7 linked regions of the Homo sapiens genome follow. Changing the gene in region 3 together with the main gene of any one other region gives a genetic interaction. Each region holds a gene or a part of one and is shown on either strand. Other genes may lie near its edges.

Region 1 (3,135 bases), on a different chromosome or scaffold from region 3:
GCGAGCTTCGCTCAAGACCCTGCACCGGATGGCAGAGAAGTATGCTTCCCCTTCCCCACCAGTTCTCCTTTACCTGACTTGGGGGGACCCATGCATACCCAGTTACCTAGGGCCTGAGGGGCCAAGGTGGGACTTTCCTTCTCTTGACAAAGGGCTGAAGTGGGGAGGGTTAGTGTTTTGGTCCCCTCCTCACTGGACCTAGGCTGTTTTGCTCCTTGAATTAAGATATGTATATTTGTTTTAAAGGGAACTGTGAATGAGGAATAGATTGGAGGGTGGTAGGAAGTGCACTAAGGTATTGGGAGCTCTGTGGGAGGTGCAGGAAGTCTGTAGGTCCAGAGCGAGCCTGGAATAGGAGAAGGACAGGTGAGATATGGCAGCTGTGGCCTTGCTGTGACAGGGTTGGGGCAGACATAACCGTTCTTCGAGAGCGAGAAGTGGATTATGATAGCGACATGCCCCGGAAGATCACCGAGGTGCTAGTACGAAAGGTCCCTGACAACCAACAGGTGAGCACACACCCATCCCTGTCTCTCATGTCCACACTGTGGAAGGGCCCTGTGGTGGCAGGCTGTCTCCTGGCCTGGGATCCTGGGGGCTTCCAGTTCATCACTTGCTCCCTAGGGAGCGTCACTGCCCTTGACCCAGTCTTCAGTTAGAGGGGTGAGAGATTGGAGTTCTTATCTCTGGCAATTCATCCACAGTTCCTAGACCTCCGTGTGGCCGTCCTGGGGAATGTGGACTCTGGGAAGTCAACTCTGCTTGGAGTCCTGACCCAGGGAGAGCTGGACAATGGGCGGGGCCGGGCTCGGCTCAACCTTTTCCGCCACCTGCATGAGATTCAGTCTGGCCGAACCTCCAGCATCAGCTTCGAGATCCTGGGCTTTAACAGCAAGGGAGAGGTGCATGGGATCAATGGGACCCAATGGGGCCAGACTCTGAGGATGGGATGGTAGTAGTGAAGGACATAGGATGGGGGTAGAGTGTGGAGACTTTTTGAAATAGTATAGATGAATGCCCTGAGGGGACTGTGAACAAGCTCTGCCCCTCTTAGGAAATCAATGGGGAATCAACTAAATTAAATAAAAAATGGGGTCAAGATTAAGAGGCAGGGTCACCCAGGGAATGGTTTAGGTCCTGGCAACTCTGAAGGGGTTGGAAGGGCTGGCAGGAGGCACTGAGGGCCCTGGGCCCTGGGCCAGGTGGTGAATTACAGCGACTCACGGACAGCAGAAGAGATCTGTGAGAGCAGCTCCAAGATGATCACCTTCATCGACCTGGCAGGCCACCATAAGTACCTACACACCACCATCTTTGGCCTCACATCATACTGCCCCGACTGCGCCCTGCTCCTCGTCAGTGCCAACACTGGGATTGGTACGAGGCATTAGGGCAGGGACAGGGCTGAAGGGGGGTGCTGACTCTCCTACCCTGGGCCTCAAATCTTGGAGACAGACCAATGCTCCTCTTCTTCCCTCTCCTCCCTCCTGCATTCTCACTCTTCTCTCCTGCTGCTTGCTGTCCTTATGAGGCAGCTGGCACCACAAGGGAACATCTGGGGCTGGCCCTGGCCCTGAAAGTGCCCTTCTTCATCGTGGTCAGCAAGATCGACCTATGTGCCAAGACCACAGTGGAGAGGACAGTACGCCAGCTGGAGCGGGTCCTCAAGCAGCCTGGCTGCCACAAGGTCCCCATGCTGGTCACCTCTGAGGATGATGCCGTCACTGCTGCCCAGCAGTTTGCTCAGTCACCCAAGTAAGCCCACCTTACTCTAAAGCCCTGATCCACTAGGAAGGCTGCCACAGAGCCCAGGGCCCAGAAGCATGATATCCTACTTCTCCAGGGCCAGACCAGTTCTGGCTTAGTTCTGCGGGTGTTTCAGCTTGGGATTGTGGAGGGGCATCTTGCTAAAGGGCTTGACCCTCCTCCCGAGCCAACCTGGAGCACTGCTGATGCCTGGGACCATGGCGATGAAGTGCTATACCAGGCATTTGCTGTTTCCCTTGGGCTCGGATGGGCTTTTTGTGTGACATTGCTCGACTGGCTCACAAGAAGGCCCAGAGTTCCTGAGCCATTTGCAGACAGGAGAGAGGGGCCCCCAGCCAGAACAAAGCTCACCTTTCCATGTATGGGGCTCTGGCCTCTGCCTCCTGTTTGGACTGTCTTCATCTGTCCATTCCATGCCTCCCTCTACAGTGTCACCCCCATCTTCACATTGTCCAGTGTGTCTGGAGAGAGTCTGGACCTCCTCAAAGTCTTTCTGAATATTCTGCCGCCACTCACCAACAGCAAAGAGCAGGAGGAACTCATGCAGCAGCTGACGGAGTTCCAGGTAGTTGACTGCCCAAACATCTAATAGGCTGGGAAACAGGGAGGGGCTGCTTCAGACCAAACCCAGAGTCTGTTTAGAGATTTTGGACCCACCAGCCCTACTTGGCAGGCCATTGATAGCGTTTTCTTTGGCTTCAGGTGGATGAAATCTACACAGTACCAGAGGTGGGGACTGTTGTTGGAGGAACACTTTCCAGGTAAATTGTCTTGCTTGCTACCCTCCCCACTCAGCCCTCACCTATATACTCAAAGACATCCTGGCCCAAAGGAGGAGACCCTGGAATTGAACGGAACCCATTTAAAGGACATGCTTATTTGCAGATTAGGCTTTCACTATCAGAAGAGCTGGAGAACGGTAGTCTGTTGGCTTTGGAGGGAAGAAACAGTATTGCTGCCTATTGGGGAATCTCCAGGCCCCTGAGAGAGAAGTGTGGGTCTTGAGCTCCAGGAAGAAAACTAGAGTGTATTCAACTGACTTCATCTCACACAGGGAAATGAGAGACGTCACTTAAGACTCTTCTTTCTTTCTTTCTTTCTTTTTTTTGAGACAGAGTCTCGCTCTGTTGCCCAGGCTGGATTGCAGTGGAGCGATCTTGGCTCACTGCAACCTCTGCCTCCTGGGTTCCAGCAATTCTCCTGCCTCAGCCTTGAGTAGCTGGAATTACAGGCGCCTACCACCATGCCCGGCTAATTTTTGTATTTTTAGTAGAGATGGGGTCGTCACCATATTGGCCAGGCTGGTCTTGAATTCCTGACCTCAAGTGATCCACCTGCCTCAGCCTCCCCAAGTGCTAGGATTACAGG
Region 2 (3,500 bases), on a different chromosome or scaffold from region 3:
GATATATCTTGGATGACCGATCAGATTCCCATAGAAGAGGTCTGAGAAAAGGGCATTCCATGTAGAAGGAATGACAAGAGCAAAGACATAGAGAGTTAATTAGAAAATGCTTGTCATTTATTTCATAATTCGGGGGAAATTATTTTGTTTTATAACACTTTTAAAAAATATTTAGCTTTGCAGTTCCTGACCCCTTAATGCCTGACCCTTCCAAGCAACCAAAGAACCAGCTTAATCCTATTGGTTCATTACAGGTAAGTTGTACAGTTCTTTGCCTACTGATGAAATATATAATAAGTTTGTAATGTCAGAGGGGCTAACACAAGGAATTAATATTTTAAAGACAAGATAGTGATATATTTTGTTTTCCAACTTACGATCATTAGATTAACAGAGCTAACTTGAAATTATTTTCCTATTTATGTTCTGGGTTTTCTTTCATATACAGTATTTGCCTTTGGCTTATAGAATTCTCATTTAAGATCAACAGGCCCTCAGTGCACATGGGTAAAGTGTTTTATACTTTAAGAATAGTTCTTGCTACTCTTGTGACAAATCTCTTTCTACTTCTGTTGAGACAGAAGACTTTATAGAGAGCCTAAATCAAATCAGTGAACCTAACTGAAGAAAAGGAGTCTATTTGCTTATTCTACCAAAAAAAAAAAATTTTATCTATACACACACAAACACACACACATATATTCAGCTTTGAATTTCTATATGCAGAATATCCTTCTTGCAGATTATCCATGTGCTCTGTTAGGCCATTTCCCTCCCCATTATTCAGCCAGTCCTTTGGTCTCCTTTTCCTGCACAGTGAGCTTTTCTATAGTTTTCTTCACCTTCTGTCCCCCACTTTATGCAAGTCTGTTGTTTGCTGTCCCTACTCCTCATGTGTTCTTGGCCAGCTGTGGGTTTGGAAGTCTATAGCTAGGAGGGGAGGGACTTTAGGAACTGATGGCAGTGAAACCTGTAGATGGTCTCCTCTGGTGTTGCCAAAGAGGGCGGTAGTAGCCTGTTTTTCTAGTTGATGTCTGATACCAGCTCACTGTGGTTTAATGCAAGAACACCATTCGTAGCACAAAACTGCTTCAGTTTTGGTATTGGGGTATAAAAATATAAAATGCGGGAATGTCTTTGAGAAATAGAGGGTCTTCCCTCTTTTTTCTGTTGCAGAATATCACTATTCTTTTCAAACATATACATAGAAATGGGATCAAAATTAAGAAAACACTTATGTGATTGAGCCATTGCATAAAATTACTATTAAAGCCTCATCTTGATTTTATAGGAATTGGCTATTCATCATGGCTGGAGACTTCCTGAATATACCCTTTCCCAGGAGGGAGGACCTGCTCATAAGAGAGAATATACTACAATTTGCAGGCTAGAGTCATTTATGGAAACTGGTACTTATTTCTTACAATTAAAGGCATTTGAAATATTTTCAGATGATGAATGACTATCGAAATTTCTGTCGTAATGTTTTCAAATATTTCTATGCAGAAAAATTGATACACTCCTCTTTTATTGTCTCTGACTTTCTGAGGTTGAACTTAAGTATAAATATTTGGCTTAAGATACTTAGTCTTCTTAATTTGATATTTTTAAAAATCATAGATTATTAATAGAAAGACAAACTGTTGGCTCTGTACTTTAAACAGTCTTCATTGATAAATTACTGACTTAAAAAACCTCAATTTGGAGAAAAAGCTATAGTAAATCTCTTGGATTTTAACAGCTATTCTATCTAGAAAATAGGACTAGAGGAAGATTACACTTGAAAATTATATGATTAATAAGAGACTACATGGCAAATAATTGCAGTGAGATAAAAATGAAAATTATCTTTCTTAATTATAGCAACTTCTATGTTATAAAGGATATAAACTATAAGAAACGCTGTCACTTTAAAAAGTACTAGCGAGAATTCCTGTTAACTTCTCTGGCATGTTTTTGTTATTTTCAAAAGTGGCTTAAAATGGGATTTTAGCTTAGCTAGATAATAGTTTCAAGTAATAAGAAACTATTTGCCTTTGGGAGGTAGTGTGGCCAGTACAGAAAGCACCAGGCCAAAAGCAGGAACCTCAGCTTCCGTCCTTGATGCAGTCCTTGATTCGCGAAGTTAAGCAAATTACTTAATTTCTCTGGACCTCAGTTTTTTAATCTATAAAACAAAAGCATGGAGGTAGATATTTATGGTATCTTTCAACTCCACCATCCCCTGTGCCTTTCTTATTCCTGTTAAAAGGAATTTCATATAATCGTCAGTTTAGAGAAGATCATAAGCAGGAAATAGACATTGAGAGAGAGGAGTTATAATTCAGATGTATTTTAATAAATCTAAATAATTGGTCAGAATTAAACCAAATATGGTTCAGTAATGCTAGACATAGGAAAATACAATTATTATAGAAAAACAGAAAGCATAACTATTAAAGAAAAACTTAAAACAAATGTCTTCAAAAGTGTAAGAATTAGTAACTATACAGGCCTGGCACAGTGGCTCACACTGATAATCCCAGCCCTTTGGGAGGCTGAGGTGGGCCGATCATATGAGGTAAGGAGTTTGAGACCAGCCTGGCCAACATGGCAAAACCCTGTCTGTACTAAATACAAAAAATCAGCCAGGTGTGGTGGTGGGCACCTGTAATCCCATCTACTTGGGAGGCTGAAGCAGGAGAATTGCTTGAACCCAGGAGGCGGAGGTTGCAGTGAGCCAAGATGGTGCCACTGCACTCCAGCCTGGTGACAAAGTGAGGGTCCGTCTCAAAAAAAAAAAAAAAAAGAATTAATAGCTATACAAACAAAATAGCATAACAAACAAAGTTATCAGGTCAGTAAGAACATAGTCTAGTATATAATAAAAACCGTGAGGTTCTCTGATTAAACACAGTACTTCATACGTTTGATCATCCTCTGTGGACACTAATTTCTTTTCTAAATCTACCATTTCTTTTTCTTTGTTCAGGAAAGGGGGCATCAAAAAAGCAAGCCAAAAGGAATGCTGCTGAGAAATTTCTTGCCAAATTTAGTAATATTTCTCCAGAGAACCACATTTCTTTAGTGAGTAATGTTGACAGCTATGATGTTAATGTCATTAAGCATTTCTTGCAGTAGGAAACTTTCCTTGATTTCTTATTCTATAGCTACTTCAGAGTTGTGATTTTTAGAAATCTCTTCATTATTCAGTTATACCCTACCCCATTTTTAGCTGCTTCCTGTTTGTGAGTCAGGATCACAGAGGCAATTAGGTAAGAGAGCTTGGGAGACACAGTCAAATTCAGAATAATAGGACGGGATCTAAAGATGATAGGCCAGTAGTGCCATTTTTGCCTTCAAAGTGACAGCGCATTTCCATCCCTTTGTTTGTTCATTCATTCACTTAGCAAACATTTAGTGAGCTCATACTGTGTGCTAAGTGTTGTGTTGGGTACTGGGGTGCAGTGAATAAGCAGTCCCTGCCTCTAAGGAGTTTATAGACTACTGAAAGGAAGGAA
Region 3 (3,500 bases):
CAGCTAATTTTTTTTTTTTTTTTTTAGTAGAGACGGGGTTTCACCATCTTGGCCAGGTTGGTCTTGAACTTCTGACCTCGTGATCCACCTGCCTCAGCCTCCCAAAGTGCTGGGATTAAAGGCGTGAGCCACCGCGCCCGGCCAGCACGCTTCTTAATCAGCATGCAGGCTGTGACATGCGGAAACCAGGGGCACAGGCTCTGAAGTTTGTACTCTGGAGCTGGAGCAGTCAGGGTTAAATGGGAGCGGCTGGGAAGGGTGTGTTTCCACGAGGCCTTTCTGATGTCTCAGTGCCCAGTCTGGACCCGGGTAGAAGGTGTGGCCAGTGCCTTGAGTCAGTGGAGCAGTTGCCTGTGCCTGGTCTCTGTGAGATGGGTTGGTCAGGGGCTAGGCAGAGCCTGTGCCTGGTCTCTGTGAGATGGGTTGGTCAGGGGCTAGGCAGAGCCTGTGCTGGGGGTAGCAGGTGCCCTCTAAAGGGGCCAGTGACAGTCTCTCTCCCAGCAGTGAGAAACCCACGCTTAGGGGCCGGGCGCGGTGGCTCACGCCTGTAATCCCAGCACTTTGGGAGGCTGAGGTGGGTGGATCGCCTGAGGTCAGGAGTTCGAGACCAGCCTGGCCAACATGGTGAAACCCCATCTCTACTAAAAATACAAAAGTTAGCCGAGTGTGGTGGCGTGTGCCTGTAATCCCAGCTACTCGGGAGGCTGAGGCAGAACATTGCTGGAGCCTGGGAGGCGGAGCTTGCGGTGACCCGAGATCGCACCATTGCGCTCCAGCCTGGGCGACACAGCGAGACTCTGTCTCAAAAATAAATAAATAAATAAATAAATAAATAAATAAATAAATAAATCTGGCTTGAGTTTTGACAAATGTATATGCAGGGTCAATGGGAAGACAGACGCTGGAGGGTGGAAGCCTGACTGTGAGAGTGAGCCCCCTGCTTTCCTGAACAGTCAGTGGAGGAGGTCCTGGGAGCTCAGGTGAGCACCTGAACGGTAGGGCAGAGCCTGAGGGTCTTGGTGGAGACAGGCAAGAAGGTTGCAGGAACCTAGTCTGGCCCAGTGCCTGGGAGAACGGGAGGGAACACGGAGGCAGGGAGGCAGAGGGGTTGGCAGGACCTGGACTGGACTGTGCGTCGCAGCTACCCACAGCTTGACCCCACTGCCTTGAAGTGAGTGATGCACCCTCACTAGTGTTCAGCGTCCAATTTCATCCTGGCCCTGAGTGTGTAACGGCTTTGCCCTTGCGGGGCCCCCTGGGATGAGGGGTGAGCCCTGTCCCTTCCTGGTCACTGTCTGCCATCAGGAGCTGCCCCGCTTACAGCTGTGATTCAGGAGCCACTGCATTTCCTCCAGCCCCCTGGGTGCTGCCAGGGGGTCCTCCTATTCTGGGAGCTGGTGTGTTCTGACTGGAGGCTGCCATGTGCAGAGTGCTGTCAAGGAGAAGGGGTGTCCACTGCCCAGCCCTGAGGCCCAAGGCCTTGGCCAGCCTTGCTGCCAGCGCTGCAGGGAAAAAGCCTCCTTTGTGTGTGGGAAGTTTAATAAACTCCGCTCAGATTGTGTCTCGCAGCGAGTGTCTGGAACCTTCCAGACAAGCCTCAGGCGTCCGGTCCTCCAGTTGGTGTGGAAAGCGTGGGCGATCACCAAGGGGGGTGGGTTGGGGCAGATGGAGCCGGCGTGAGTCCCGTCTCTTCCCTTCCTTCCCAGAAAGGCAGCCCTGGAGTCCATGCCTTGTCCCGCTCTCACCGGCAAAAAGTATAATCTTATTAGAAATAGGAAAGTTCCAAAAAGCATCAATGAGTTAAAAAGAGGGCTGGGCATGTTCGGTCATGCCTGTAATCCCAGCACTTTGGGAGGCCAAGGCGGGTGGATCACCCGAGGTTGGGAGTTAGCCTGACCAACATGGTGAAACCCTGTCTCTACTAAAAATACAAAATTAGCTGAGTGTGGTGGCGCACGCCTGTAATCCCAGCTACTCTGGAGGCTGAGGCAGGAGAATCACTTGAACCCGGGAAGCAGAGGTTGCGGTGAGCCAAGACCATGCCATTGCACTCCAGCCTGGGTAACAAGAGTGAAACTCCGTCTCGAAAAAAAAAAGGGCTGGGGCCGGGCGTGGTGGCTCACGCCTGTAATCCCAGCACTTTGGGAGGCCGAGGCGGTTTGATCACAAGGTCAGAAGTTTGAGACCAGCGTGGCCAACATGGTGAAACCCTCTCTCTACTAAAAATAGAAAAACTAGCCAGGTGTGGTGGCACATGCCAATAATCCCAGCTACTTCATCTGAGGTCAGGAGTTCAAGACCAGCCTGGCCAATATGGCGAAACTCCGTCTCTACTACAAATACAAAAATTAGCCAGGCGTGGTGGCGCGCGCCTGTAGTCCAGCTACTGGGGAAGCTGAAGCAAGGAGAATCGCTTGAACCTGGGAGGCGGAGGTTGCGGTGAGCCGAGATCGCATCATTGCATTCCAGGCTGGGCAAGCCTAGGAGAGAAGAGCGAAATTGTGTCTCAAAAAAACAATTAATTAAAATAAAATCAGTGCCATAGGCTGTTTCTGGTAGGCAGTGGGTTCCTAGGGTGGAGCAGGGAAGGGCTGGAAAGGGTCGCCTGTGCCCAGCCCGACTCCCCGTGCTTCTCGGGGGACAGCACGGCTAGCTGCTGCTGCGGAGCCCACAGTGGGGTTCTGGGGGGGGGGGTGCAGGCAGAAGGCCGCCATGCCTCCCTCCCCCTTTCCACCCCAGTGAGAGTGGGCTCGAAGGCAGGGAGTCTGCCCGCCTTGTGGAGCCTCCGCAGAGGCACCCAGGGCTGCCGTGAGCGCACAGCCTGGCGGTGTCCCACGGCCCTGCCCTTTCCTGTCACTTCCACCTGTTGCAAAACACTGTGCTTTCGTATCTTTTCTTTCTACCTGTTTGGAAATGTGAAAATCACTGCTGCCGTAGGAAACGGGCCCAGATCCGGGCTGTGGCTCTCCCATCCGCACCGCCCCCGCGGTGTCCAGCCAGGAGGTGGGAGGTGGGCGGCACTCAGTGTGCCTGGTTGCGGCGATGATTGGCAGATGCTTGGACCTATGGTAAAGAGGATTTTCGCGAGCTGGGAGTCAGTCCTGGACTTTGTAGGTCTTTACATCCCAGGCGGCCTTTATGGGGTTCCAGCATCTGCTGAGGCCCCTGCGCCAGCCATGTGAGGCCTGGGTGTCCTCGAGGCCTCTGTTTGTGCCCCTCTCTGGGCAGCGGGAGGGAGAGCTCTGAGACCCAGAGGGAGCTCAGGGGCTGGGCAGCCGCAGAACAGCGGGGGTAATGGGTCCACTGGGGGTTCTGGGCTGTGCACACAGTGGGCTTCCGGTGCCCAGCCAGCTGGGGCAGGCCTGGAATGTTGGTTCCTCTCTCAGGATCTGGGGCGCTGCTGTAGCTGTCGGGGAATCAGTGAGGCGGCTGGACGGCCCGTATATCCCACAAACGCCACCGTATTGCTCAAACTGGACTCAATTTTCTTAACACCTTTT
Region 4 (3,500 bases), on a different chromosome or scaffold from region 3:
TGGTCTCAAACTCCTGACCTCAAGTGATCCACCTGCCTCATCCCCCCATAGTGCTGGGATTACAGGCTTGACCCTCTGCACCCGGCTGAATATCCAGTTTTTCTAGCACCATTTGTTGAAGAGACTGTTCTTTCACTAAAGATGGTCTTGGCATCCTTTGTCAAAAATGAATTACCATATATGCAAGGGTTTTCTGAGTTCTCTATTCCATTAGTCTATATGTCTATCCTTGCCAGTACCAGCCACACTGTCTTGATTACTGTAGGTTTTATAGTAAGTTTCAAAATTGGGAAGTATGAGTCTTCTAACTTTGTCCTTTTCCAAGCTCTGGTTGGTGATGTTCCCGTAGGTTTCTCAGAGGCTGTGTTGATCAACATGAAAAACTTAATCAGCAAAAACATAAATTTTTTTTTTCATGCTAATAGCTAAATTTATTCAATTGTCTATAGTCAACAGGTGAAAAGAATGGAAAACTGTGGTCTCCAGATGAAGAGGTTTCCCCTGAAGTACTAGCAAAGGTAAATTTGTTTAGGCCTTGATAATCTTCATGTTTAAAAAAGGGACATTTTGTAGTTATCTTCCTCACCTTTAAAAAATTTAATAAACAGAGATGGGATCTTGCTGTGTTGCTCAGTTTGGTCTTGAACTCCTGGGCTCAGCTGATCCTCCCACTTCAGCCTCCCAAAGTGCTGGGATTATGAGCTTAAGCCATCGTGCCTAGCTGGGAGCCTTTTTTAATTAAACCTAATAGTTAATAAGCATTTGTTAAGGAGGTACTTTATTTTAAAATCCATTGCAAAAAATGGTTTATTGAAGACATTGTGGTTGTCATTGTTTATTACATGTCAGTGTCTTCTGCCTGCTAAAGCAATCTTAATGAGGCTGTTTTATAGAGAGACTGTTTATAGAATGACGGTGCTCAGAGGCATCTTAAATCCAGCCTCATCACCACTATCTACAAGCATATGAATATTAACTTGGCAAAGATAGGTAATTGTCAAGCTGGGCACTGTGGCAGATTTGGGATTTAAAATAAGATTGTATCATCTTCTTTGATAATCTGTTTCACTTTGTGTTGCTTCATCATCATCATATATTCTATCAATTCATTTTTCCTGGTTGTCAATAAATATAATAAATAATACTTTGATTTGTTTTTCACACCTATTATCCCAGCACTTTGGGAGGCAGAGCAGGAGGATCGCTTGAGCCCAAGAGTTCAAGACCAACCTGGGCAGCATAGTGAGCCATGTCTCTACAAAATATTAAAAATAATTTAGTTGGGCTAGGCATGGTGGCTCACGCCTATAATCCCAGCACTTTGGGAGGCTGAGGCAGGCAGATCACTTGGGGTCAGGAGTTCAAGACCAGTCTGGACAACATGGTGAAACCCCTTGTCTACTAAAAATACAAAAACTAGCTAGGCATGGTGTTGCACATCTGTAATCCCAGCTACTTCGGAGGCTGAGGCAGGACAGTCACTTGAACCTGGGAGGTAGAGGTTGCAGTGAGCCAAGGTCCCGCCACCGCCCTCCAGCTTGGGCAACAGAGTGAAACTCGGTCTCAAATAATAATAATGATAATTTGGCCGGGTGTGGTGGTGCATACCTATAGTTCCACCTACTCAGAAAGCTGAGGCAGGAGGATCGCTTGAGCCCAGGAGGTCAAGGCTACAGTGAGTTGTGATCATGCCAGTACACTCCAGCCTGGGTGACAGAGCAGATAGAGATGATTGTTACTAAATTTGTGACATTTAATAGATGTAAAGCTCAGTTGAAAAGTGGCAGATTTGGGATTTAAAATAAGATTGTATCATCTTCTTTGATAATCTTTCACTTTGTGTTGCTTTGTAGTCATCATATATTCTATCAGTTCATTTTTCCAGGTTGTCAATAAATATAATAAATAATACTTTGATTTTTTGGCTAGCTTTTTCACATATATTGGTAACAATCTTTTGACTAGACATTTCTAAGTAATTATGACTACCAATAATTACACAAAATCCCATTTTTTTGGTCACAATGTTAAATGAGACTGAATCAGACTTGATGGTTTCTTCAAAGTAGTTTTTCAATACCACAAAACTGAAACTCTCAAGTTATTTTCAGTCACCACAATCAGTACAGTTGTGGGGTGTGTGTGTGTGTGTGTGTGTGTGTGTGTGTGTGTGTGTGTTTTGGTTTTTTTATGAAACAGAGTTTTGCTCTGTCACCCAGGCTGGAGTGCAGTGGCACAATCTCAGCTCACTGCAACCTCTGCCTCCCGGGTTCAAGCAATTCTCATGCCTCAGCCTCCTGAGTAGCTGGGACTACAGGCGTGTGCCACCATGCCTGACTAATTTTTTTTTTTTTTTTTTTTTAGTAGAGACGGGGTTTTTTAGTATAGACACGGTTTCACCATGTTGGCTAGGCTGGTCTCAAACGCCTGACCTCAAGTGATCCACCTGCCTTGGCCTCCCAAAGTGCTGGGATTACAGGCGTGAGTCACCACCCCCGGCCTGTATAGTTTAAATTGTTGTTTTTAAAGTATATGTTTTCAAATAGTTTCAAAATCTTGCACAAACATCTAAGTATGAGAAGCCTAAATTCTGGAACCAGACTTTTAAGCAAGTTATCTATGATAATAATGTGTCTCAATTGCCTTATCTGTTGGAAAAAAAAAAATCTTCCTCATAAGAATTTTTTGGGAGATTAAATAAGTTAATACATTTACAGATCTAAGAAAAGTGCCTGGCACTGGTTAAGCACAGAGTAAATATTAGTTCGTATTGTTGCTGTTATTATCCCATAGACTTATTTAATAAAATGTCTGCTGATGGAGATGAGTAATCTCATTAATCTAATTAAATTAATTTTCCCTTTAATTGGAATTTTAAGTTGCTTTCTTTTTTTAGCATGTTAATATTTTATAGGTACAGGCAATTAAACTTCTGGTAAGGTGGCTGTTGGGTATGAAAAACAACCAGTCTAAATCTGCCAATTCAACCCTTCGGTTATTATCAGCGATGTTGGTTAGTGAGGGTGACCTGACAGAGCAAAAGAGGATCAGGTGAGATTTTTCTTTCTTTCCAGTTTTCTTAGTGCTGAAATTTTGGTGGAATTTACATAGGAATTATTTACCTAATGAATACTGAATGGTGTAATTACACCATGATCTTCAGGGTCAGATCTTATGTACTCATTTAGGGTTTGTCTGTCTGTCAGTATTGTTATTTTAATAGTGCCAATATATTTTTCTTCATTCCTAAAGAAGAGGAACTTTTTCCAGTAAATACATAATCATAATCACTATATTGTACTATTACAGTTAGCATCAACATTTGGTTCAATTAAACAAGTATTTGTTAAACTTCTACTTCATAAAACACTGTGAAAAGCATTGCAGCAAAAATAAGTAGGAAAAGTCCCTGCCTTCAAAGAGCATCCCTGTATTAAAGCGATTAAATAAGTGGAGTGACTTGAGTCCCATGAAAGTAATAAAAATTTAAGTGGCAGCCA
Region 5 (3,500 bases), on a different chromosome or scaffold from region 3:
ATTCAGATTCCTCATCCCACATTTCCCAACCCAGAGCCCAAATAGACCCAAACCACCCCAGCCTCTGGGAGATCTCCTGGATATATTTGGTTGGTCTGGACTCTCCAGTGCTCTGGGCCCCCTCCCCTTGGACTTGTTTCTAGGGAGTTGGGACTGGAGGCCTGCAGACACATAATGGCCAGAGGCCTGATGGGGCAGGGCTAGGGGCTGCTGGGCAGTGATGCCCAATGACAGGCTGGGCGTGGAGCCCAGCGAGCAGATGCTGGCGCAGGTGTGACATCATGCCCCTGGGTAGGTGCCAGTTCTCATGCCGTCACTCCCGAACAGATCCAGCGGCCAGGGGGAAGGGAGCCTGCCTCTGAGCAGATCAATTTGGGACCACTTCCTGCCCACTAGTGGAAAAGCCCCAACTTCCACACCCTCTTCCCGGGCATGGGCAGGGTAAATTCCCTACTTCTCCTATTTTGTTCCTCTACTTACTTTTGTGGCTTTTGAGTTTCATGCGCAGAAGGCAGAGGGGCAAGAAGTGGCTTCTTGGAGTGAGGAGCAGGAAGCGTGTCCTTCAGTCCAGGAGGCCTGGGTCGGCAGGTATAGCTACTGGCATGGGGCCAGCAGTGCTGCCTTCCTCCCCAGAAGTCTGCAAACATTAGTTAGCTGCCTAGGATAGGGGCTCAGTCTGGCACAGAGCCCAGAGGGAGTGGAAGCCCAGCAGCGGGAGGGGAGTGGATCCTCTGGGATTATTCTGAATGCTCTCCCATTTCTGACCTGAACCCATCCTACTGCTAGAAAATGAGACAAAACGGGTAGTTTTGCAGCTTGTTACGTATCTAAGCTCAGATCAGCTGGGGTTGCACTCAGCATCTGGAGGCTCCAGTAGTCTCAAGTGCAAGGCAGTATGGTGGGCAGTGCCCTAGGTTATAACGCCAGCTCAGCCACTGACTATCTGAGACCTCAGTGCATGACACTCCCACTCCTGCCTCAGTTTCCTTCTCTGCAGTCTCCTGGGCTGGACAGGATTGTATGTAAGGCCTATTGAGCTCTCATACCCTGGCTTAATTCAGACTCCAGGGAAACCAGTATTTGTAAGAGCTCAGCTGCTCCCACAGCAGGACCGAGTAGACTAAGATGGATGAAGCTCGGCCCTGGGCCCACTGGAGAGTGGAAGGGCCCTCAAAGAAGGAAGGGATAAGGCTGACTCACACTCCATAGAACATACAGTAAACCTTTCCCCAGGCTACCTTGTTCTGGACTCTGGCTTGGCCAAAACTGGTATACTAGACATTTCTTTTGAATCATTTCAAATGTTCTTGATTCACTATCTCTTACTCCAGCCATTACTGCAGTTCTACTGGATAGATTCTTGCTTCAGGCCTGTGCCACACCTGGGCCTTTGCTATTGATGGCTGCAGTGACTATGCATGTGTGAACTAGTAGCGGAGCGGAGTTATCCCATGAGGTCAATCTTTCTTTTCTTTTTTTTTTTTTTTTTGAGACAGAGTCTTGCTTTGTCACCCAGGCTGGAGTGCAGTGGCACAATCTCAGCTCACTGCAACCTCTGCCTCACAGGTTCAAGCAATTCTCCTGTCTCCGCCTCCCAAGTAGCTGGGACTACAGGCACCTGCCACCACACCCAGCTAATTTTGTATTTTTAGCAGAGATGGGGTTTCACCTTGTTGGTCAGCTGGTCTCGAACTCCTGACCTCAGGTTATCCACCCACCTCAGCCTCCCAAAGCGCAGGGATTACAGGCGTGAGCACTGCGCCCGGCCTTTTTTTTTTCAGATGGAGTCTCGCTCTGTCGTCCAGGCTGGAGTGCAGTGGCAGGATCTTGGTTCATTGCAACCTCTACTTCCTGGGTTCAAGCAATTCTCCTGCCTCAGCCTCCTGAGTAGCTGGGATTACAGGCATGCGCCACCATGCCCGGCTAATTTTTGTATTTTTAGTAGAGACGGGACTTCACCATGTTGGCCAGGCTGGTCTCGAACTCCTTACCTCAAGTGATCTGCCTGCCTCGGCCTCCCAAAGTGCTGGTGAGCCACCATACCCAGCCTGGGGTAAGTCTTTGGAATCTTTGACCATTGTGGGATGGGAGTGGCAGATAAAGGTTTCTTCTTTTCTCTAGAAAATAGCTATTCATCCAGACAGTCCTAAAGAGTATTTCTTTTCTTTTCTTTTCTTTTTTTTTGGAGATGGAGTCTCGCTCTGTCGCCCAGGCTGGAGTGCTGTAGCGCAATCTCAGCTCACTGCAACCTCCGCCTCCCAGGCTCAAGCAATTTTCCTGCCTCAGTCTCCCGAGTAGCTGGGATTACAGGCACCCGCCACCATGCCCAGCTAATTTTTGTATTTCTAGTGGAGACGGGGTTTCACCATGTTGGCCAGGCTGGTCTCAAACTTCCGACCTCAGGTGATCCGCCCACCTCAGCCTCCCAAAGTGCTGGGATTACAGGCATGAGCCACCACGCCCAGACACTTTAAGGAGTATTTCAAAAAGTTTCTCAGTTCCAAGGGACTGAGCAACAGCTGCCCTTAGCAGTGGCTAATTCAATAATGCATCCTTAGAGTGGCTCTCCCTCTTTCCCTCCATGGGATCACTCCCTACTACCTAACAAGGTATCTGCACATAAGCTTCAGGCTCTGCTTTCCGGAACCCAAGGCTAAGATAGTGATCCATGTTCAGATTATGGCAAGTGGAACAAACCTAACCCAAACGCCACTATAAAAAGAATAAAGCTTGGGCAATATGGCAAAACCCCATCTCTACCAAAAAACAAAAGAAATTAGCTGGGCATGGTGGTGCAAGCCCGCGGTCCCAACCACTCGGGAGGCTAAGGCAGAGGATCCTCTGTTGCCCAGGCTGGAGTGCAGTGGCATAGTCACAGTTCAGGATGGGATCATGCCACTGCACTCCAGCCTGGGCAAAAGAGCAAGACCCCGTCTCAAATAATAATAATAATAAAATAGTTTATTGTGCCTGTGTTGCCAACACTCATAGAAAGAACCAACCTGTTGAGTCTTTAAGTTCACTGAGCATTTAAAAACATTTCCAGGTGGGGCCTACTGGATCACACCTGTAATCCTAGTACTCTGGGAGGCTGAGGTGGGCGGATCACTTGAGGTCAGGAGTTCAAGACTAGCCTGGCCAACATGGAGAAAGCCCATCTCTACTAAAAATACAAAAAAGTAGCCTGGTGTGGTGCTGTGCACTTGTAGTCCCAGCTACTCAGGAGGCTGACGCATGATAATTGCTTGAACCCAGGAGGCGGAGGTTGCAGTGAGCTGATATAGCACCACCACTCTCCAGCCTGGGTAACAGGGTGACACCTTATCTCAAAAAAAAAAAAAAAAGAAAAAGAAAAAAAGGCTGAGCTCAGTGGCTCACACCTGTAACCCCAGCACTTTAGGAGGCCGAGGCGGGTGAATCACGAGGTCAAGTGTCCGAGACCAGCCTGGCCAACATGGTGAAATCCCGTCTCTACTAAAAATAGAAAAAATTAGCTGGGC
Region 6 (3,500 bases), on a different chromosome or scaffold from region 3:
CTGCCCGCCACCCAATCTGAAATCTAAAATGTATGCTCTGGCCCAGACGAGGTGGCTCACATCTATAATGCTAACACTTTGGGAGGCTGAGGCAGGAAGATCACTTAAAGCCAGGAGTTCCAAATAAACCTGGGCAACATAGTGAGACTTTGTCTATTAAAAAAATAAACAAAAGATATGCTTTTTTTTTTTTGAGATGGGGTCTTGCTGTTATGTTGCCCAGGCTGGACTTAAAACTCCTGGGCTCAGGAGATCCTACCACCTCAGCCTCCCCACAAAGTGTGTATCTGTTCTTATTCGTAAATTAATTTCAACAGTTTTCGACTTTTTAAATAGAACCAGAAACTAGTTCAAAGGGATATTTACGTAGCAGTAAGGCTTGTAAGTTTGTGATGGGCTTTTGATATTTAGGATCCCTTCAAGCTACAAGACAACTTTTTAAAAGTTATTTTGAATATATTAATTATGCTATGTCATTTATACTAACTTTTCCTATAACATGGTTGTGGGGTTTTTTTTCTTTTTTTCTTTTTTTTTTTTTTTTTTTGAGACGGAGTCTCGCTCTGTCACCCAGGCTGGAGTACAATGGCGCGATCTCCGCCCACTACAAGCTCCGTCTCCTGGGTTCACGCCATTCTCCTGCCTCAGCCTCTCAAGTAGCTGGGACTACAGGCACCCGCCACTACGCCCAGCTAATTTTTTTTTTTTTTTTTTTTGAGATGGAGTCTTGCTCTGTCGCCCAGGCTGGAGTGCAGTGGCGCGATCTTGGCTCACTGCAAGCTCCGCCTCCTGGGTTCACGCCATTCTCCTGCCTCAGCCTCCCAAGTAGCTGGGACTATAGGCGCCCGCCACCACGCCCGGCTAATTTTTTGTATTTTTAGTACAGACGGGGTTTCACCATGTTAGCCAAGATGGTCTGGATATCCTGACCTTGTGATCCGCCCGCCTCGGCCTCCCAAACTGCTGGGATTACAGGCATGAGCCACCGCGCCCGGCCCCAGCTACTTTTTTGTATTTTTAGTAAAGACAGGGTTTCACTGTGTCAGCCAGGATGGTCTCAATCTCCTGACCTCACGATCTGCCCGCCTCAGCCTCCCAAAGTGCTGGGATTACAGAAGCGAGCCACCGCACCCGGCCTTTTTTTTTCTTTTCTTTTTAAAATTATTTAAAATAGCGATGAGGTCTCCCTATGTTGTCCGGATGGTTCTCAAAATCCTGAGATCAAGTGATCTTCCCATCTAGCCTCAAAAATGCTGGGATTATAGGAGTGAGCCACAGTGCCTGGCTGCTTGTGTGGTTCTGTTTGTTGCACAGAATTAAGCTTGGAGAATTTTAAATCAGATTGGCAGTATCTAAAGTTAAAGAATAATTAAAAAAAAAAAACCTGTAATAACTCTTCCTTCCCTATAGAAACTAAAAGAGTATTTAAAGTTGGGAAAGATAAATGACAATTTTAAGTATAGGAGGTATACACTATTCCTAAACTGCATTAAAAAACAGACTGAATTGTTTTGTCTTCCTTATAACAGAATTCATTCTGCTACACATTTCTGACGTTCTGGAGTTTTAAAATACCTGTTTATAATTGATTCTTTCCCCAGCTGGTAGATGGTCTGCATTCAACACCACTGAGTCATAGCAACGCTGTATTCTTCTAGGTCTTCTAACAGTTGTGCTATCATCCAGATGATCTAACAAGTTGCAGAATTTGAAGGTCCAGCAGTCTTGGAGACATGGACTCCAGATGACCACAAACCAACTCTTGCACTTTCATCCGCATTTCCTGTTGGGTTATTTAGATCTTTCCAGCTTTACTGTCCACAGTAAAAAAAAAAGCTGACAAAAATTCAAGATTTCAGCAAGAAGATGCGGTTCCCTGGTACTTCTTAGAATTGAGTGTATTCAGAGCAGTGTGTTCAGACTGTCCAGGTATTTCAAAATCTTCCCCTGTGATGTGGGTGTGCTGCTGAGTGACCAGCACATTCCTAGCAGCAATTGGTGAACTCAGAAAAAGTCAAACTAGACATAAACGGTAGATGCAGCCCAGTAAAACTGGAAGGTAATTCAAGGAAGACTGTGGACATGGTAGGTCAATATGATAGAAAAATAATATTTGTAATCCCCTCTGAATGTCAATACTTTGAGAGCTGTCTATATTATTATGATAAAACTCTGCTTAGTAACTATGGTTAGGGTAGTAAACAGATGGGTTAAGATGATGAGAGTACAGAATAGTAGAATTATCCAAGAATCCACCTTTGGGTTCACTACCTTCTGAAATTCTCCCCCACCTCTGCCTGCCCTCAATTAAAGAAACACTGAACTTCATTAGATTTTGAATGTCCTAAAAATATTTCATTTTCCTTTACTTATTTTTAATATCTTGAAAAATACTTTTTTGATAATCACATATAGTCAAAGGGAGTGAAATAAATTTCGAAGTGTGTTGGGTGTGAATCTTATGTATTTTTCTTGGGAACATGAATAAAAACAGTAATTATAATCTTGTAGTAATTGAACATTAAAAACTAGTATAGATAATAAGTGGCATAAAGAGAAGTCTTTTGATGGATATTGGAATGGAGTATTTGAAAAGATCTAAAGAATATAAGGAAGGCAGAAGTCTGCCTATTATTTAATAGGCCCACATTAGCTAGATAAGCCAGACTTAAAGAATCTTTAAACATTCTTATTAAGTTATTAAAACAACACCATTTTTACTGAAGAAATATCAGATATATTTTTCAAAAATTACCATATAAAACATTAGTAAATGCTACCATTTTGGGGATTTTCCTACATTAGAGATTTACTTGCTTAAAATACACTTATGAAACTTAGTTCAATAATACTAAATCCTCTGAAAATTTAACTCTGTGAAGAGTAATATAAAAAGCACCTTCTAAAAATTCCTTGTTGTGACACAGGGTCTCATCTGTTGCCCAGGCTGGAGTGCAGTGGCATGATCACAGCTCTCATTGCAGCCTCAACCTCCAGGGCTCAGGTGATACTCCCACCTCAGCCTCCCAACACAGCTGGGATCACAGGCACTCACTACTGCGCCTGGCGCTTTTTTTTTTTGGGGGGGGGGGGGTTGGGGACGATGTTGGAGGGAGCTGGGACAGGGTCTTACTATGTGGCCCAGGCAAGTCTAGAACTCCTAGGGTCAAGCAATTCTCCCACCTCAGCCTCCCAAATGTGTTGGAATAACAGGCATGAGCCACTGCGCCTGTCCTAAAGTTTTTAACAAGAAAACCCCAGTAGGATGTTTTCATCATTATTAAAACGATTTATTATTGGGATCAATGAATCATTGAGCTGTATGAGTTCCTTTTTTTTTTTTTTTTGAGACAGAGTCTCACTCTGTCACCCAGGCTGGAGTGCAGCGGCACAATCTTGGCTCACTGCAACCTCCACCTCCCAGGTTCAAGCAATTCTCCTGCCTCAGCCTCCCAAATAGCTGGGACCATAGGTGCACGCCACCACACCTGGCTAATTTT
Region 7 (3,500 bases), on a different chromosome or scaffold from region 3:
GGAGGTTAAAGTGGGAGGATCCCTTGAGCCCAGGAGGTTGAGGCTGCAGTGAGCCGTAATTGTGCCACTGCACTCCAGCCTGGGCAACAGCAAGACCCTGTCTCAAAAAAAAAAAAAGGAAGAAGAAATGAAAAATAGCTGATGCCACATGGTGTTCTTAGATGCTCACCCTGTACTCTTCAGGACTGATGCCTTCTCAGTAAATCGTATTGTTCCCCTAAGTGAGATCACAAGAAAGACAGTCCTCTGCTCTACCTTCTCAACCTTGAGACTTTGTAAGTGACACCATTAAAGCAGTCTGAGCAGGGCTTTTCAAACAGTGTTCTGTAATGTGCTACTGAAAGAGGAAGCAAAGCTCTCCACCTAGATTGGAGCATCTCGACTGCTGTCAGGTTAATGTAGTGTTGGGATTTCTTCTGCTTAAGATATCCTTTGAAAAATGAGTCCTGCAGCTTTAACCAAAAAGAAAAAAAAAAGATTTTAAAAAAAAAAGTATTCTCAGCGAGGCATGGTGGCTCACGCCTGTAATCCCAGCACTTTGGGAGGCCAAAGCGGGTAGATCACCTGAGGTCAGGAGTTTGAGACCAGCCTGGCCAACATGGTGAAACCCCATCTCAACTAAAAATGCAACAATTAGCTGGGCATGATGGCAGATGCCTGTAATCCCAGCTACTCAGGAGGCTAAGGCAGGAAAATCACTTGAACCCAGGAGGTGGAGGTTGCAGTGAGCCGAGATTGCATCATTGCACTCCAGCCTGGGTGACAAAGCGAGACTCCACCTCCAAAGGAAAAAAAAAGTATTCTGGTATTTACTGACACCTGGATATTGGGACAAGTTACTTTGGTCTTGAGGAAACTAAAGGTGACATGTAGAGTGAGGGATGGGGAAAAATAGCAATTGTTATTTCAAAGACAATAGATTTTGAAAAATTATGCTCCTGTAAGACATTTGTTATCTCTAAAGTTTTCCAGCATAAGCCAAAGTGTTTTTTTTCAGAATTTGGTCAGTGTAGCCCAGAGGTCCAGTCTAGATGGTGTTTGGTGTAAGACTTATGGTTTCACTGGAATTCCTTCACACCAATCCTTGAAGGTCTGCCCCATTTGTGCTAGGCTGAGGCTATCTGGTTATGTGAAGCCCATAGCTAGGGGCCTGGAGGTCCCTATGTTAAAATTTGACTCACGGGACAAATAAGAACTGCCTCCTGCCTCCTTTTCTTACCTGTGTTTTGTAACGAGTTATTTTTAAGTTGCATCCAGACATCCAGCCTCTATGTATACTTCTCCCTGGTCCTCTACATTCTTTCTTTTCTTTGTGACCTCTGTTAAGTTTGTTAAAGGGATGGGAAGGGGTGCTCATTTGTTGAGCACTTTCTATGTGCCAGGCATTATGTTAGGTGCTTTGAATATACTATTTAATACTCAAAACAGCCTTATGAGATAGGTACTCTCATCCCTAATTTTAGGTGAGCAAATTATAAACATGAGAGAGGCTAAGTAACTTTTCTCTAACTCATATTTCTCTGTTAATAATAAAAGACGTGTGAATTAGTGATGATTTTCTCTCAGACTCAAACCCAGTTTTCTTTCCACCTTTCCTCTACACTTTGTAGTATTAGTTCCCCTTTTGTTGCTCTTCCAGGGAAAGGTGATCTATGGATAGCCTAACTACGGATTGTTGTGAGATCCTGAATGCTAACCATGGTGTTACTGACTTTCCCTAGGGTCCTATCCTTCCCCCAAAGCTGGAGCAACTCTGGTCGTGTACAAGGACTTGCTAGTGCTGTTTGGTGGCTGGACGCGGCCAAGCCCTTATCCCCTACACCAGCCAGAGAGATTCTTTGATGAAATACACACTTACTCACCCTCTAAAAATTGGTAAGTCACAAAGATAAACTCTTTAAATCTGGAAGAAAAGGCCTTAAATCAGTGGATTCTTTGTTTTTTTGTGTCAAGAGTCCCTTTGAGAATTAGATGGAAAGCTGTGGACTCTTTTCCCAGGAGGGGAAAAATGCACATATTCACAGATTTTACCAACAGTTTCAGAGAGTTTACAGGACTCTCTTAGAACCCTGCATTTAGAATCCTTATTCTAAAGAGAAAAAATAGAAGAGATTTATTCCTCTTTCAAGAAAAATGAATGAGCCAGTTGAAGAACAGCGAGCTCTTCAGCTTTGGCTGCTAACACTCCAGGAGTGTTGTAGATCCAGATGATTCCTTACTCCTAACTGTGTCTCCAAGACTTACTCTGAATTGTTTTTCAAACATATATCTCTTAATGACAGCAACCGCCGTTTCTTGTAATGGAAGACTTAGTACGTGGCGCTTGTTAGCTGTTACTGATCAGGACCATAGGGAAAGGTAGCAGGTGGCAGGTGGTGCTTTGTCAGCAAACCAGGCCAAAGAAGCCATGATCTTGTCTCTTGTCATCGTTTTCTCATCTCTCTCCCTCCAGACCGTTTACATTCAGAACTTGAAAGAAGATAACTTTAAGCAAACTTGTAGGAAAGGCATAAATACATTATGCCATCCTCTACTTATTATCCCAACAAATCTCTGCTGAAAGTGATAGGATTATCATTTTAAATGGATGCCTACTTACTATTTTTACATAAAGTGTGTGGTGCTGACTTCTTGACTTCCTCCTGTCTTTTTACATTAGGTGGAACTGCATTGTGACAACCCATGGGCCACCTCCCATGGCTGGCCACTCCTCCTGTGTGATAGATGATAAAATGATTGTCTTTGGTGGCTCTTTAGGATCCCGGCAAATGTAAGTACATTTGGTTTGCTCCATATGAGCCTGAAGGTAAATACTCCTGGGAATAACAGGTTTAAAAGTGAATTAGGGACCAGGTGCCTAATTCACACCTGTAATCCCAGCATTTTGGGAGGCCAAGGTGGGTGGATCACCTGAGGTCAGGAGTTTGTGACCAGCATGGCGAACATGGCGAAGCCCCATCTCTACTAAAAATACAAAAATTAGCCGGGCATGGTGGCACACACCTGTAGTCCCAGTTACTTGGGAGACTAAGGCAGGAGAATCGCTTGAACCTGGGAAGTGGCGATTGCAGTGAGCCAAGATCACCCCATTGCATTCCAGCCTGGGCAACAGATCGAGACTCTTAAGGAAAAAAAAAAAAAAAGTAAGTTAGGGTCAGTATTCCTGAGCATGGCTCTAATTAATCCAATTAGTTATCTCATCCTAGCATTCTGTTCTTTAATCCCTTAATCACAGACCAATAAATTGAAAAATTTGCTCTATAAAATCATAGTTATATAGAATCTCTTTGACATATGGTTCTATTCAGTAGGATCAAATTCTGATGGAACCTCCACCTTGCCTGCTGTGCTGTGCCTGCAGAAGGCCAACTTTCGAGAACAGAATGCTTTTACTTATTCTACTTTATTACCCAGCTCTTGCCCTTTTGGGCTTTAGAGGAGAAGAGGGGGAGATTGACAGGACAAGTGGAAATGGTGGGCCCTCCAAATGTGATAGGTTG

What was found.
Region 1: changes in STK11 (region 3) and GTPBP2 together harm fitness more than expected from each alone (negative genetic interaction), as found in Homo sapiens cells (one large-scale study listed by BioGRID).
Region 2: changes in STK11 (region 3) and PRKRA together harm fitness more than expected from each alone (negative genetic interaction), as found in Homo sapiens cells (one large-scale study listed by BioGRID).
Region 4: changes in STK11 (region 3) and PDS5A together harm fitness more than expected from each alone (negative genetic interaction), as found in Homo sapiens cells (one large-scale study listed by BioGRID).
Region 5: changes in STK11 (region 3) and MPV17 together harm fitness more than expected from each alone (negative genetic interaction), as found in Homo sapiens cells (one large-scale study listed by BioGRID).
Region 6: changes in STK11 (region 3) and CSNK1A1 together harm fitness more than expected from each alone (negative genetic interaction), as found in Homo sapiens cells (one large-scale study listed by BioGRID).
Region 7: changes in STK11 (region 3) and FBXO42 together harm fitness more than expected from each alone (negative genetic interaction), as found in Homo sapiens cells (one large-scale study listed by BioGRID).

Annotation. Positions count from the first base shown.
Region 1 is NC_000006.12:43,623,130-43,626,264, reverse strand, and holds part of GTPBP2 (GTP-binding protein 2), read left to right. Parts: coding exon 1-39; intron 40-400; coding exon 401-509; intron 510-704; coding exon 705-902; intron 903-1,202; coding exon 1,203-1,377; intron 1,378-1,535; coding exon 1,536-1,755; intron 1,756-2,196; coding exon 2,197-2,332; intron 2,333-2,469; coding exon 2,470-2,528; intron 2,529-3,135.
Region 2 is NC_000002.12:178,441,176-178,444,675, reverse strand, and holds part of PRKRA (interferon-inducible double-stranded RNA-dependent protein kinase activator A), read left to right. Parts: intron 1-175; coding exon 176-254; intron 255-1,291; coding exon 1,292-1,409; intron 1,410-2,971; coding exon 2,972-3,066; intron 3,067-3,500. UniProt on the Homo sapiens protein: Activates EIF2AK2/PKR in the absence of double-stranded RNA (dsRNA), leading to phosphorylation of EIF2S1/EFI2-alpha and inhibition of translation and induction of apoptosis.
Region 3 is NC_000019.10:1,208,778-1,212,277, forward strand, and holds part of STK11 (serine/threonine-protein kinase STK11), read left to right. Parts: intron 1-3,500. UniProt on the Homo sapiens protein: Tumor suppressor serine/threonine-protein kinase that controls the activity of AMP-activated protein kinase (AMPK) family members, thereby playing a role in various processes such as cell metabolism, cell polarity, apoptosis and DNA damage response.
Region 4 is NC_000004.12:39,866,412-39,869,911, reverse strand, and holds part of PDS5A (sister chromatid cohesion protein PDS5 homolog A), read left to right. Parts: intron 1-449; coding exon 450-518; intron 519-2,914; coding exon 2,915-3,051; intron 3,052-3,500. UniProt on the Homo sapiens protein: Probable regulator of sister chromatid cohesion in mitosis which may stabilize cohesin complex association with chromatin. May couple sister chromatid cohesion during mitosis to DNA replication.
Region 5 is NC_000002.12:27,316,598-27,320,097, forward strand, and holds part of MPV17 (mitochondrial inner membrane protein Mpv17), read right to left. Parts: intron 577-3,500; exon of another isoform or gene 503-576; coding exon of another isoform or gene 481-502; intron 1-480. UniProt on the Homo sapiens protein: Non-selective channel that modulates the membrane potential under normal conditions and oxidative stress, and is involved in mitochondrial homeostasis.
Region 6 is NC_000005.10:149,499,440-149,502,939, forward strand, and holds part of CSNK1A1 (casein kinase I isoform alpha), read right to left. Parts: intron 1-3,500.
Region 7 is NC_000001.11:16,254,981-16,258,480, reverse strand, and holds part of FBXO42 (F-box only protein 42), read left to right. Parts: intron 1-1,721; coding exon 1,722-1,875; intron 1,876-2,659; coding exon 2,660-2,770; intron 2,771-3,500. UniProt on the Homo sapiens protein: Substrate-recognition component of some SCF (SKP1-CUL1-F-box protein)-type E3 ubiquitin ligase complex. Specifically recognizes p53/TP53, promoting its ubiquitination and degradation.